3 separate regions of the Homo sapiens genome follow, and all the other regions are linked to region 3. Evidence: fine-mapped expression QTL. A gene starts in region 3. Each other region holds a variant in brackets. All regions are shown on one strand. Distances are between the middles of the regions.

What was found. PIP is the estimated chance that this variant, and not a neighbour inherited with it, causes the effect.
Region 1: its variant is the best candidate, but not a certain one, in a credible set for the expression of NHLH2 in lung (TOPMed, PIP 0.54).
Region 2: its variant is the best candidate, but not a certain one, in a credible set for the expression of NHLH2 in caudate (GTEx, PIP 0.64).

Annotation. Positions count from the first base shown.
Region 1 is chr1:115,810,590-115,815,823 of GRCh38, forward strand. No RefSeq gene overlaps it. Among named protein-coding and RNA genes, the nearest start is that of NHLH2, 28 kb to the right of the region's middle. The variant T/C (reference allele first, on the strand shown) is at 2,119.
Region 2 is chr1:115,963,276-115,968,509 of GRCh38, forward strand. The region is part of intron 1 of LOC101928977 (a long non-coding RNA gene); the gene reads right to left. Among named protein-coding and RNA genes, the nearest start is that of SLC22A15, 11 kb to the right of the region's middle. The variant G/GATGGTTTAATAT (reference allele first, on the strand shown) is at 2,219.
Region 3 is chr1:115,838,797-115,844,030 of GRCh38, forward strand. NHLH2 (nescient helix-loop-helix 2) reads right to left here and starts at 2,330. Exons shown (of 3, transcript NM_005599.3): 1 at 2,152-2,330; 2 at 1,420-1,748.

The DNA of each region.
Region 1 (5,234 bases), 28 kb before region 3:
GGAGAGTTGAAGAAGGACAATTAGACTTTTTGGAAAAGCTGAAAATTAAAAGGTGAAGTGCTGTGTTGGACAAAAGCAAGACCACCAAGGCCACTTGGAGAAGAGCGGAGTGGCCTTGGACTCTGGATAAGCTGGGAAACATCCTCCCAGTGTTTTCTGCAAGTGTTCATTCCTGCCCATCTGTTCTGTGCAATACATAAGTGCCCCACTTATGTTGTTTGCACAGAACCTACTCTGTGGTGAAATGCCAGGTTCTGGCTGCATGCTTTCCCAACAGTCCCTTCTTCTGTCACTCCAGAGTTGGGTGTGTGTCAGGGGTCCCCAGGCGCTCAAGGTTTCATTGACAATTCATTAGAGAGATTCACAGGACTCAGAAAGCTGTTGTACTGATGGTTACAGGTTATTCCAGCAAAAGGATATAGATTAAAATTAGCAAAGGGAAAAGATACATGGGGCAAAGTCCAGGAGAAACCAGGTGCAAGCTTCCAGATGTTCCCTCCCAATAGAGCTGCACAGGATGTATTTAATCCTCTCAGCCTCAGTGTGTGATAACACATATAAAGTGTTGCCAACTAAGGAAGCTCACCCAAGCCTTGGTGTCTAGAGTTTTTATTGGGGATCTGTCATGTAGGCATGCTGTACCTGTGTGACTGGTTTCAGCTACTCAGACTCCAGCACTCCTAGACCAAAAGCAAGTGTTTGCCACAAGTCACATTGTTAGCACAATCTGATCCAACTGGTAACATGTGACCCAAGGCCTCAAGCAAACAAAATGTCCCTTATCAGGCAGAATATCCAGGGACTCAGAGCTTATCTCCCGGAAACTGGCCAAGGGCCATTGCGGAAATCAGGCCTTTCTTGGGAATGTATAGGGTTTGAGCAACTCAGATCTCCTGAGCTAACACTTTCCTTCCCAGCAAGAAGGGGTAGTTTGGAGGCAGAGGGACTTTTTCTGGCCAGTGGCCTCAGGACTGAAGCCTTTCTGCATAGAGACTCAGCTCCCCACAATAGCAGTGTTTTGGTAACCATGAGCATTTGGTCAGACCATCTGTGCTGGGCATAAGGGTTGATAGTGTCCACACTACCTATGCTACTGCTGAGAGTGGGAAACCTGCTGGGGGATTCCTTCAAGGATGAGTCATCCTCAAGGGGCCTCAACCCTTTGTCCCCACCGAGCATCACTCCTAAGTGCTACCCATTTCACCCTTAAACATTACTCAGACCTGCCCTTCCTCTGAGCCTCTGCCAGCATTACCTAGTCCAGATCAACGTCATCCTTCACTTGTACCATTGCAGCAGGCTCCTCCCCAGCCTCCTGGCCCACTGTCATCCCACTACAGTCAGAGTGAGCTTTAATGAAACTAAGTCTCCCCTTCAGTGGCTCCCCATGGCCTGTAGGATGAAATCCAAGCTCCATGACTCTGAATGGAACATTCTCTTGCCCCTACTCCAGCCTCTTGTCTCCTCTGCCTCTCAAGATTGCCTTTGACAATCCAAATTGCTTGTAGATCTCAGTATAGAGCTTGTTGTTTCTGTCTGTTGTTTCTTTGCACCAAGAGCCAATCATAATCCCAAAAGACACAATCTCAAATGTGATAATCCCACATGTTGAAATCCCCAAAAATCAAAATCACAAAATTACAATTCTGGGAAAAGTAATTTTAAAATTAGTTTAAAGATATTTTATTTGAGATACATATAAAAATGACAGAACACTCACAGGCCACTTTATACAATAAAATAGATAAAAGTAATACATTTTTGCAATCATAACTACTCAGGTATACTGACAGTCACATCGTGATGAGCAGACAACTGTATTCATAAAGAAATAGGTCAAAAAGTGAAATGTATATATAAATATCATTATGGTTGGTAATTGTGTACACCCAGTCTCATAACTGTAACCATCTGAAATACTGTGATAAACAACCTAAGTCTTTTGATGAAATAGATCAAAAAATGCAATGGGTCACCAACTCATCATATGCACTTTCTCAAAGAGCTGAGATCTCGAGAAATTGTTTTTTTTTTTTTTTTTTTTGAGACGGAGTCTCGCTCTGCCGCCCAGACTGGAGTGCAGTGGCACTATCTCGGCTCACTGCAAGCTCCACCTCC[T/C]GGGTTCACGCCATTCTCCTGCTTCAGCCTCCCGAGTAGCTGGGACTACAGGCGCCCGCCACCACGCCTGGCTAATTTTTTGTATTTTTAGTAGAGATGGGGTTTCACTGTGTTAGCCAGGATGGTCTCCATCTCCTGACCTCGTGATCCGCCCGCCTTGGCCTCCCAAAGTGCTTGGATTACAGGCGTGAGCCACCGTGCCCGGCCGATCTCGAGAAATCTTATCTTTCATAAATACAGGTGCACAAAAAGGACATCTCTTCATTTGTTGAGGAAGTTTCAGTGTTTTCTAATGTCCAAGGCAGCAGAAGAAAAGTCTGTTCCAGCTCTCAGATGCCAATAGCCTTCTGTATTTGTTCTCTCCAGGACCCTTGCCGATTGGATGGTGTCCTCTAATATTGGGTAAAGATCTTCCCCAGCTAATCCACTCAGTCTCAGGCACTAATCTCCTCTGGAAACACCCTCACAAACACACCTAAAATAACGCTTTACCAGATTTCTAGGTATTCTTTAATCCAGTCAAGTTGACATTTAAAATTAAGTCCACAAGTTCACCCCTTGTCAACTTGGCACTCACACACATCTCCTTAAACATACCTCATTTCCAATGAAGACAATAACAAGTAATAGTTCTGCCTAAAATGATACGTCTATACTGTGATTGTAATTTAGACTTTAGGGGTTTAAATCTTTTGGGATTTCAGTATTCAGGATTATGGCATTTTGGATCATGTCTCTCAGGATTATGACCCAAACCCCTTTGCAACAGTCCTACTGCCTGGAACATTGCTCTCTTCTCACTTCCTTGCCTTAGCCTAGCCACCCTCTACTCCTGGACTGAGCTCAGGTATCACCTTAGGAAGTCTTCTCCAACTCCCTTCCTTAGCCCCACAAGCCAGGTTAGCTGCTTTCCTCCTCTGTGCATTATAATTATCTGTTCACTTGCCTGCCTTCACTTCTAGAATAGTCTCCTTGAAGACAGACATGGTGTCTTATTAGTTTTTTTTTATCCCAAATAGCTAGCACAATGCCCGCACAGAGCAGGTGCTCAGCAATTGTTTAGTGTATGAATAAATGAAAGGGTAAATTAATAAATGCATTAGTAGACATGAGAATGAATCCAATTTGAGCCAGACTTGTCTTGGCTGCTTTTTGAGAAGTCTGTCTTCCTCTTAGGCAGTTTCTTGCACTGTCATAGTCTTCTCTGCCTAAGTCTTCCTCTTAGGCAGTTTCTTGCACTGTCATAAGCATAGACTCTGGGTGTGTATCTCAATTCTGCTTAGTATGTGAACCCAGGCTAGTTACCTAATCTGTCTAAATCTCAGTTATCTTAGAGTACAGCAGGGACCCTAATCATGAGGTTATTGTTAATATTCAGTGAGATGAGGTCTATGAAGTGCCTAGTGCAGTGCCTGCCATATGATGAGCGCTTCAGATAGGGAAGTGTTTTTATTGCCCCTAATTGATTTGCTTCTACATCTTGTCTGGTCTCCCACCTGGACCAACTGGAAAAGCCTTCATGGCTATAATCTTCTGAATCTTCAAGTCTCATATTCAGTGGATAGCAAAATGCCCCTTTCTCCTGAGATTGGGATTTTGGTGGAAGGTAGGGGAGCTAAGTTCCCAAGACAAGGGTCTGCTGGCATTGTTTACTAGATCCCCTAACCACTTGCTTCCTTTGACCCCAGGAGCTAACTGGTCACCAGGTCCTCTGATTCTGCCACCTCAGATTTCTAACTCCAGTTCTCATTGCCATTGTTAGTAAACTTTACAATTTAGGGACAAGGGACTAAACCACTGAGACCATGGCCTCTCCTACTATGTCATCCCTAACCATTTATTTTGCTTCTAGCCCATTCTCAAACTACTGTCCAAGTCCACCATCCTCATGGGGTGATTATGAAGGCTAAGTGAATGCCTGTGAAGTGTTTAGCACGATGCCTAGATTATAGTGAGTACTCAATAAATGGTCACTATCATCAGATCTGATACCATTCCTCTGCTTAGAAGCTTCCACTGGTCCACAACTGTCTATGGAATGAAGTTCAAATTCCTGAGCACAGCATTGAAGGCCCTTGATGATCAGAACTCCACCTACACTGAACTTTTCCAGCTCTGTCCCCATCTTACATTGTTCTCACTTGGAATGCCTTTTTCCCACCTTGTCTGTTGAAACCTGCCCACAGAAGCCCAGTGTGAATACCATTTCCGTGAAGCATTTCTTGATTCACTTAGTTGTAATTAATCATCTTTTCTCTTGGGATCCCACAGAGTTTAATTTATATTTCCACACTACCTCTTTTTGCCCTTTTTGTATACTAATTCGGCTATTGAACTTCTTATCCCTCCTCCTACTAGAGAATAAATTCATGGTGCAAACAAACATTGGCTACAGGCATCTTGGCAATCAGCAATAGAAAATATGTGGGTGGGACAGACCAAGCCTACAAAATAGAGCTGCCAGAAAGCCTTTTGGAGTAGACTTAGAGAGAGCGTGTGAGGCTAGCATGCCAAGGAGAAGCTTATCAGAGTCACAGTGATCAAGCCTAAGCTAAGGGCTGGAGATGACTGGTAGTCAGTAGTCTTGCAAAGATGTCTGCTCTCCAAAGAGAATGTGGACTTTATTTGAATGGAGACTGACCTACGATTAACTGGCACCATCTCTTTATGGGTCATATTGTCTCAGGGACACAATAATAAATAATAAATTCATGGTGCAAACAAATGTTGACTACAGGCCTGTGCTTGTGTCCACCTCTCACAAGTAGTTAACAGAGCTGAGCACAGGCTCCAACTCTTTGCATTATCTGCATTATCCCAAGCCAGGTGAAAAACAGGGTTAGAGACAGGCAAGACCTCTAACTATGCACCCAGAAACTTAGCATGGGAGGGAACAGGATTCTTCTGCAGGTGGTTCTGAGGGTAGTCTGGTCCTTTGGCCTGTGAAGGACAAGGGAGGGAGGAGCTTGAGGCAAAGGCAAACTTGTCCCCCAACTTGTATTCTGTCATAATTCCTTCTCAGACACAAAATTTTCTAGTTTTCCCTCATTGCTGCTGGTCTTTTCCCTCCCCTTTCTTGTTATTCTTTTTCTCCTTTTTTTATTCTCCTTCCCTCC
Region 2 (5,234 bases), 120 kb after region 3:
ATCAGCCAAGAATTTTGTATCCAGCGAAACTAAGCATCATATATGAAGGAAAGATACAGTCTTTCTCAGACAAACAATTGGTGAGAGACGTCGATATACCAAGCCACCACTACAAGAACTGCTAAAAGAAGCTCTAAATCTTGAAACAAATCCTGGAAACACATCAAAACAGAAACTCTTTAAAGCATAAATCACACAGGACCTATAAAACCAAAAAACAAGTTAAAAGGCAAAAACATAAAACAAAAAATCCAAGGTGCACAGGCAAAAAAATAGCACAATGAATGCAACAGTACCTCACATCTCAATACTAACATTGAATGTAAATGGCCTAAATGCTCCACGTAAAAGATACAGAACCTCAGAACGGATAAGAACTCACCAGCCAACTACCTGCTGCCTTCAGGAGACTAACCTAACACATAAGGACTCATATTAGCTTAAAGTAAAGAGCAGGGGGAAAGGCATTTCATGCAAATAGACACCAAATGTGAGCAGGGTAGCTATTCTTATATCTGACAAAACAAACTTTAAAGCAACAGCAGTTAAAAGAGACAAAGAGGGACATTATATAACAGTAAAAGGCCTTGTGCAAGAGGAAAATATCACAATCCAAAACATATATGTGCCTATCACTGGAGCTCCCAAATTTATAAAACAATTACTAATAGACCTAAGAAATGAGATAGACAGCAACAAAATAATAGTGGGGGACTTCAATACTCCACTGACAGCACTTGACAGGTCATCAAGAAAGACAGTCAACAAAGAAACAATGGATTTAAACGATACCTTGGAACAAATGGACTTAATAGATATATACAGAACATTTCATCCAACAACCACAGAATACACATTCTATTCAATAACTCATGGAACTTTCTCCAAGATAGACCATATGATAGGCCATAAGAGTCTCAATACATTTAAGAAAATTGAAATTATATCAAACACTCTCTCAGACCACAGTGGAATAAAACTGGAAATCAACTCCAAAAGGAACCTTCGAAACCATACAAATACATGGAAATTAAATAACCTGTTTCTGAATGAGCATTGGGTCAAAAACAAAATCAAGATGGAAATTAAAAAATTATTCAAACTGAACGACAGTAATGACACAACCTATCAAAACCTCTGGGATATAGCAAAGGTGGTGCTAAGAGGGAAGATCATAACACCAAATGCCTGTATCAAAAAGACTGAAAGAGACTAACTGACATTCTAAGGTCACACCTCAAGGAACTAAAGAAACAAGAACAAACCATACCCAAACCCAGCAGAAGAAAACAAAAATAACCAAGATCAGAGCAGAACTAAATGAAACTGAAACACACAAAAAAATACAAAAGGTAAATGAAACAAAAAGCTGGTTCTTTGAAAAGATAAATAAAATTAATAGACCATTAGCAAGATTAACCAAGAAAAGAAGAAAGAAAATCCAAACAACCTCATTAAGAAACGATACAGGAGATATTATAACTGATACCACTGAAATACAAAAGATCATTCAAGGCTACTATGAACACCTTTACGTACATAAACTAAAAAACCTAGAAGAGATGGATAAATTCCTGGAAAAATACAACCCTCCTAGCTTAAATCAGGAAAAATTAGATGCTCTGAACAGACCAATAACAAGCAGTGAGACTGATATGGTAATTAAAAAATTACTGTTCGTGACTACCCTGACCAACATGGTGAAACCCCATCTCTACTAAAAATACAAATTTAGCTGGGTGTGGTGGTGCATGCCTGTAATCCCAGCTACTTGGGAGGCTGAGGCAGGAGAATCGCTTGAACCCAGGAGATGGAGGTTGCAGTGAGCTGAGTTCGTACCATTGCACTCTAGCCTGGGCAACAAGAGCGAAACTCTGTCTCAAAAAAAAAAAAAAAATTTACCAACAAAAAGTGCCTGGGACCAGATGGATTCACAGCAGAATTCTACCAGACATTCAAGGAAGAATCGGTACCAATCCTTTTGACACTATTCCACAAGATAGAGAAAGAAGGAACCCTCCCTAATTCATTCTATGAAGCTAGCGTTACCCTAATACCAAAACCAGAAAGGACAAAACCAAAAAAGAAAACTACAGACCAATATCCTTGATGAACATAGATGCTAAAATCCTTAACAAAATACTAGCTAACCAAATCCAGCAACATATCAAAAAGATAATCCACCACGATTGAGTGGGTTTCATACCAGGGATGCAGT[G/GATGGTTTAATAT]ATGCAAGTCAGTAAATGTGGTACACCACATAAACAGAATTAAAACAAAAATCACACTATCATCTCAATAGATGCAGAAAAAGCATTTGACAAAATCCAGCATCCCTTTATGATTAAAACTCTCGGCAAAACTGGCATATGAGGTACATACCTCAATGTAATAAAAGCCATCTACGACAAGCCCACAGCCAACATAATACCAAATGAGGAAAAGTTGAAAGCATTTTCTCTGAGAACTGGAACAAGGTAACAATGCCCACTCTCACCACTCCTCTACAACATAGTACTGGAAGTCCTAGCCAGAGCAGTCAGACAAGAGAAAGAAATAAGGGGCATCCAAATCAGTAAAGAGGAAGTCAGACTGTCACTGTTTGCTGACCATATGCTCATTTACCTCGAAAACCCTAAAGGTTCCTCCAGAAAGCTCCTAGAACTAGTAAAATAACTCAGCAATGTTTCCGGATACAAGATTAATGTACACAAATCAGTAGCTCTTCTATACAACAGCGACCAAGCAGAGAATCAAATCAAGAACTCAGCCCCTTTTTCAAGGGCTGCCAAAAAAATAAAATACCTAGGAATATACCTAACCAAGGAGTCAAAAAACCTCTACAAGGAAAACTACAAAACACTGCTGAAAGAGATCATAGATGATACAAACAAATGTAAACACATCCCATGCTCATGGATAGGTAGAATCAATATTGTGAAAATGACCACACTGCCAAAAGCAATCTACAAATTCATTGCAATCCCCATCAAAATACCACCATCATTCTTCACAAAATTAGAAAAAACAATTCTAAAATTCATATGGAGCCAAACAAGAGCCCACATACCCAAAGCAAGTCTAAGCAAAAAGAACAAATCTGGAGGCATCACACCACCTGATTACAAACTATACTGTAGGGCCATAGTCAACAAGCCAGCATGGTACTGGTATAAAAATGGTACATAGATCAATGGAACAGGATAGAGAACCCAGAAATAAACCCAAATACTTACAGCAAACTGGTCTTCAAGAAAGCAAACAAAATCATAAAGTGGGGAAAGGACACCCTTTTCAACAAATGGTGCTGGGATAATTGGCTAGCCACATGTAGGGGAATGAAACTGGATCCTCATCTCTCACCTTACATAAAAATCAACTCAAGATGGATTAAGGACTTAAATCTAATGCCTGAAACTATAAAAATTCTAGAAGACAACATTGGAAAAACCATTCTAGACATTCTTAGGCAAGGATTTCATGACCAAGAATCCAAAAGCAAATGCAATAAAAACAAAGATAAATAGTTGAGACTTAATTAAACTAAAGAGCTTTTGCACAGCAAAAGGAACAGTCAGCAGAGTAGACAGACAATCCACAGAGTGGGACAAAATCTTCACAATCTGTACATCTGACAAAGGACTAATATCCAGAATCTACAATGAACTCAAACAAATCAGTAAGAAAACACAATCGCATCAAAAAGTGGGCTAAGGACATGAATAGACAATTCTCAAAATAAGGACAAACAAATGGCCCAACAAACAAGAAAAAATGCTCCCCAGCACTTTGGGAGGCCAAGGTGGGCGGATCATGAGGTCAGGAGATCGAGACCATCCTGGCTAACATGGTGAAACCCCGTCTCTACTAAAAATGCAAAAAAATTAGCTGGGCGTCGTGGTGGGCACCTGTAGTTCCAGCTACTCGGGAGGCTGAGGCAGGAGAATGGCGTGAACCTGGGAGGCGGAGCTTGCAGTGAGCGGAGATCGCGCCACTGCACTCCAGCCTGGGCAACAGAGCAGCAGATCAAGACCCCGTCTCAAAAAAAATAAAAAAAAAATAAAAAATAAATGCTCAATATCACTAATGATCAGGGAAATGCAAATCAAAACCGCAATGTGATACCACCTTACTCCTGCAAGAATGGCCATAATAAAAAAATCAAAAAACAGTAGATGTTGGCGTGGGTGCAGTGATCAGGGAACACTTCTACACTGCTAGTGGGGATGTAAACTAGTACATCCCCACCTACATGTGGAAAACAGTGTGGAGATTCCTTAAAGAACTAAAAGTAGAACTACCATTTGATCCAGCAATCCCACTACTGGGTATCTACCCAGTGGAAACGGAGTCATTATACGACAAAGATACTTGCACAGGCAGGTTTATAGCAGCACAATTCACAATTGCAAAATCGTGGAACCAATGCAAATGCCCATCAATCAATGAGTGAATAAAGAAATTGTGGTGTATATATTTGATGTAATACTACTCAGCCATAAAAAGAAATGAATTAACGGCATTTGTAGTGACCTGGATGAGATTGGAGACTACTATTCTAAGTGAAGCAACTCAGAAATGGAAAACCAAACATCATATGTTTTCACTGACATGTGGGAGCTAAGCTATGAGGATGCAAAGGCATAAGAATGATACAATGGACTTTAGGGACTTGGGGTGAAAGAGTGGGAGGGGGTCGAGGGATAGAAGACTACAAATGGGGTGCAGTGTATACTGCCTGGGTGATGGGTGAACCAAAATCTCACAAATCACCACTGAAGAACTTACTCACGTAACCAAATATCACTTGTACCCCAATACCTTATGGAAAAATAAAAAACAGAAATAAAAATAAATAAAAATGGAAAAAAATAAAAGCAATGCAAATTGCTGGTTTTAATTTAAAAAGCCCAGTTGGCTTTGAGACTCTTGATATACGTCATTGTCATCCTTATGCAATACTCAACCAATAGAAGTGGTTCTGGAAGTTCCAATAAGCATCTATATTTTAATCCTGAGAAACTGTGAGGCATTTGTGCCTGCATAGGCCAAGTTTTTCATCCATTCTACTGAATCACTCTATTTATTGACTCCATGAATACAGCAAATTCATCATGTCACTCAGTATTCCCTAGTTATATAACTCTTCCATGTAAGAAATAGCATCAGCAACAGCAACAAAAACAGTAACATCACTGACATTTTCATTAAATATGAGCACTCAGGAATGAACCTGTTGAATTAAAT
Region 3 (5,234 bases):
AACGAATACATCTGGGTTTTCACGGGGGCGGGGAGACGCGGGGTGCACTTCTCGCCCCGAGGGCCTCCGGCGAAGCAACCCGGCAGCCGCGGCGCCCGAGGGCCTGGCGCTGGTCTGGGGCTGCGCCGGGGGCGCCTGGCTCTGGGGTGCGGCCGGTCAGGAATCCCCATCCTGGAGCGCAGGCGGAGAGCCAGTGGCTGGGGGCGGGAAGGCTTCTTGGACCCCTCGCGCTTCTCCGAAATCGTAAAGAAATGACTAAACAAACGTGGGGGAGCCTTTAAAAAGAAAATTGACTCCGATGCCCTCGCAGGCTCCCGGAGCACCATCTGTCACGCAGACAGCCACACACATAGGGGACCTAGGGACACGGCGACGTGGGATCAGACAATGCGCCCGGCAGTCTGGCGACCACCTTGCGGGAAAATGCCGGCAGCCGGGCCGCTGAGGGAGGAGAGGATGCAGAGGGAAGGGAAGAGAAGGGAAGGGCCCGGGGCGGGGCAGGCGGGGACTAGCGGGTGCAGCGCGTGTTGTCCCGGCGGGAGCTGCATCTCTGCCGGCAAAGTTCGGGCGCTCCCGGAACCGGAGCTCGGCAGGCTGCAGCTGTCCCCGGGTGGCCTGGCCAAGTCCGGGCATGTCGGTGCTTAGCCTTCCTCTAACTTAACTGTGCCCTCTTGGAAACGCCACCTGGCCAGGCTTCTCTGGGGCGCCTGGAGCACTGGCCCGGACTGTGCGCCTTCTGGGAGGGGGCCGCTCAGAACCGCTGGGCTTCCGGGTAATTCGGGCTTCGAGAAAGGGCCCGGCAGGAGGAGAAAGGCCCCTGCAGGGGCTGCACGCACCGCCCCTGGGCGTCGGGAGTGAGGACCAGGCTGAGAACTCGGGGCCCCGGCGTGGGCAGCCTCCACGACGCTCGGCACGGGAGAAATCCGCGTCGGCGACGTATAGGAGCGTTTGCTTCTAGAGAAACAAAAGCAAGGGGATGGGTGATCGGTTCCCAGCACCGCACTTGCAGAGGAGCGAATTGGGCCAAAACAGCTTTAATTTCCCTGCGAGGAAATCAGGTCCTCTACGGCAAAATAAAAACAAATGCTCCCAGAGAGCTGCATGTGACTCCCTACGGGCTTTTCTCGGGTACGTTTATGAGTAGAACAACTTGCACCTACACAGTCAGCTTGAAAGGGCAGAAATAAATAGACGAGTAATGGAAAATCACAATAAGCCACTAAATAGTTGTAGTTCTGGTAAAAAGTTCCTGGGTTGCCCTCAAAGCACATTAAATTCTCCTCTAGATCTTTAAAAATATTCATAAATAGTATGCCGTGTATGCGTTTTATCTCTTTATGGAATGAACTGCATCTATAGATACAGTATGAATAATCTAACTTATTTCAAGCTGAAAAAAATTATTTAAAGGAGTCTTACCTTGCAAAAGCCTTTTTGATAATCTGTTCTCCAATCTTTAGAGTTAAAATTCCAAGGAATAGCGAGGGGAGATTCCGGAAAATATTAAAAGCAGCAAATATTTATTACATTCAAAAATGAAAAAGCAGCTGTCATCTCGCTGGTGTCCGCAGCGAGGGACAATAATATCTCAGGATGTAGACGATATGAATGATTGTTCACTTAGTTGATAGATTTTTTAAAAAACGCTTTTTCCTTTTAATTGTTCTCAAACATTGCAAGAAATTCGTTGATGATTTTTTTAAACGATGTGTTGAAAAGTCTCGTGCCTTTTTTCCTCTTCTAGGTCTCTAAAAATAACAAAAGAGATGCAGAGATAAACACAATCACATCAAAGGGCTGATTCCTCCACTTTCTAATAGCGGAATAATCAATAAGAAAGATGGTTAAGATAAGATTCCGCTCCTATCGTATGCCTTTCTTTTCCTTAATACGGCTGAGCAGAAACTGGGAAGTGCAGGACAGAGATGTGATCTTGCTCAGAAGTGATTTTTTTTTTTTTTTTGAGATAAGGCTTTGTTCAGCTGATATCTCCCCAGTTCCCAGGAACACAATACTGTAACTAGGAGCTAAGGTTGCCTCTTCCTCTTCCCTCACTTACTTGTATGTTGTATAAATAGACACCTATTTTCCAGTTTCAAAGTCTTTCAAGGTTTGGCTATATCCCCCGTCCCCAGCCCCTCTTCTCTTTACCTTGTAGCAAAATATATATAGTCAGTGGCTTGGAGATGCTTGGAGAAAGGTTGGTGAAAAGTGAACGTCTCCTGGAGTAACAGTGACAAGGAAGCAGAGAAAGACGGGAAGAGGGTGGGAGAGCCAGAGCAAAGAGGCAGAGATGCGTGTGTGGCTTCTGGGCTCTCCTGGTACCAATTGATTCAGCCTGGAGATGGTGGAAGAGATAAAGGCTTAGGAAGGGGGATGGAATTTTTTTCCCCTAAATTGATATTTAATGGGAAATCCTATTGGACAGAAACCTGGACATGAGTCACTTAATTGGACTTGACATCTGTCACAGTGTGGGAGTTTTCACAGCCCAAATATTTTAGCAGATCAGATTCCCACTGAATCTGTGCCATAAAATATAACAATTGAAAAGCAGTTCATGATAGAAATCTTAGCCTCTAAACAGTATCTAGCCGTAGTCAGGCTATTTCTCTTTTCCAGATTATTGATGAAATATTTAAGTACAAATAAACAATATATTGACTATCAAAGAATTCCCCTGGCATATTACAAAGCCACCACTTTCCCTTAATATTTAGAAAAATATTTGTGTCCAGAACATGGAAATATATACTATATAAGATGCTGCAATAAAGTATTTAGACATGCAACAGCCAACATTTATTAGAGATCATTTACATTTTAAAAGATACTTCAGTAAGGTTTGATTAAGCATATTAACATTTTTGAGAAATGATCTGCTATGAGACTAACTTATCAATAGATGGTAAGAACCTTTCAATAGATTAAGCCATTGGTGGAACTAGAAAGAGAATCCACATATTCACGGACCACGACATGAGATAATTCTACTTTTCTGTATGTTTGTTTTTCTCTCCACCCACTCATTCATTCAAGCTGAAATATGACATGCTACATGTGTTGATTATTGCACTTCATTCTTGCCCATCTTAACATGCTAATATATTGTACTGCGTGGCAGTGCTTGTGCCAAGATGTAAACACAAATTACCAGTGTGTCCCAGTACATAATGCCTTTGCCTTACATGATCCCATGGCCCTGAATTTGTATACCTTATAATAAAAAATAAAATCTAGTTCAATTATTTTGCCACTTTATGAAGATACTCATAGTTAATATCAATAACATATTATTTGTGATTATTTTAGCTTGTTTTGATCATACAAGCTTAAAGAAATAAAAGAGCATTACAGCCTTACTCCCACCCCGCCAGTTCCTAGGGGAACATTTGTGGAGAGAGGAGTCCTCACTTGTCTTCCTTAATTTTGCCCTAAAAGCAGATTTTATCACCAGGGGAGGCACATTGAGCAGCCCACCCCTGGGAGTGACCCTCCGGGTTTTTCATGGCTTCCACAAGTACTATTTGCCTTTGCCCACATTTTTGCTCCTTTGAGAGATTCCTGGACCACAATGGGGCAGGGGTCGGGGAAAGGAGGGAGTGCCTCCAACAAATAAGGGCACCAACACTCCCCAGCCTTGCTTCTGCCTAACCCCAGCACAGAGGTATATTTTAGATATCCCCAGAACGTTAAAGTGAAGATGGAAGCCGGTCCCATACAGGTGGCAATGGAAATGGGTGAGTGGATAAACACCCCAAGGTGGTGACAATGAAGGGAGAAGGGAGGTTTTCTCACTCTAGTTAGGAACAGCCAATGCTAAGCATTCACACACAACCAGAAGTGTGCACACAGATGCACACCCACAGACACCTGTACCTCCTCCCCCTTCATCATACAAGCTGGCTGGCTCTATTAGACCACCACACATCCATACTGATGGATTGAAAAAAACTGGTGGGTCTAATCACCATAGCTCTAGAGTGGGCAGCTGCTACAGTGGGAAAGGACCAGCATCTCTGGTTCCCCTGGTGTTGGGGAGTCATGACAGGGTGTGCCTATCAGGGCAGGTCCAATTCTGCTATGGTGTGTGTGATACCAGACAAATTCCCTTTTATGTTCAGGCTTACTCATTCTATACCAGCAGCCAGCATACACAAAAATTAATGCTTACAGAAGTAAGCCTGTATAAACAGGTACACACTCAGATCCATACTTAGTGATGCCTAGCCACACTGTCATAGACACAGACATGGATTCACATTCACACACACACATTCTTTCTTCCATCAAAGCCTCCCCCTCCCCCACCCCTTTGCCTTTTCTAAGACCTCCCTGGCACAGATGGCCCCTCCTTCTGTGCTCCATAAGCACTCCTTTCATGTCTCCCTTAGAGACTACATATTGTGTACCGTGATTCTTGGTTCTTGGTTACCACACTGGTCTCTCTTCCTAGGCTATGATGCTTCCAGGGGAGGTCTGTAGCTTATATCCCCAGCACTAATGTCTGAGCTTGACACATTATAGGTACTCAGTTCATTTATGATGTGACTCTATGTACAGAGGTACCCCAGATATTTGTAACATAGAAACGCTTCCACTAAAGGACACCCATGGTTCAGTTCTATCAATTTTCTTTCCTGTAAAAATGAGAATAATAATATTGCACTTCTCATTTCACAGGCTCGCTATGAGACCCAATGTATTTGAAAATATTTGATGAAATAGTAAGCACCATACAAATTATGATATTATAGACTATAAGAGTAATATTAAATAATATTATTAAATGAATGGGGAGGTGATAAGTAGTGACTTAAAAAGTCCGGCTTTGTGGCTCTGTCATATGCTAGCTGTGTGAATTTAGTTGTAAGTTACTTAACCTTTTTGGACCTTAGTTTTCTAATCTGTAAAATGAGAATAATCAAAGCATGTTATGTAATGTTATGTCATGTTTTTTTCTGAAGGTGAACAAGATAATATATGTAAAGTGCTTAAACTAATGCCTAGAACTCATGTTCAGTAAGTGTTGGCTATCATTATTATTATTATTCAGTATAAATACATATTGAGGAACAGATATATATTGACATAGAAAAATAAACATATCCAGATATACTCACCCGTGTGTGTGTGTGTGTGTGTGTGTGTGTGTGTGTGTGTGTGTGTGTGTCTGTCCATAGCTCTGGTGGCCAAACTACAATGAGCATTTTCCATGTGTCAGACCTAGGTAT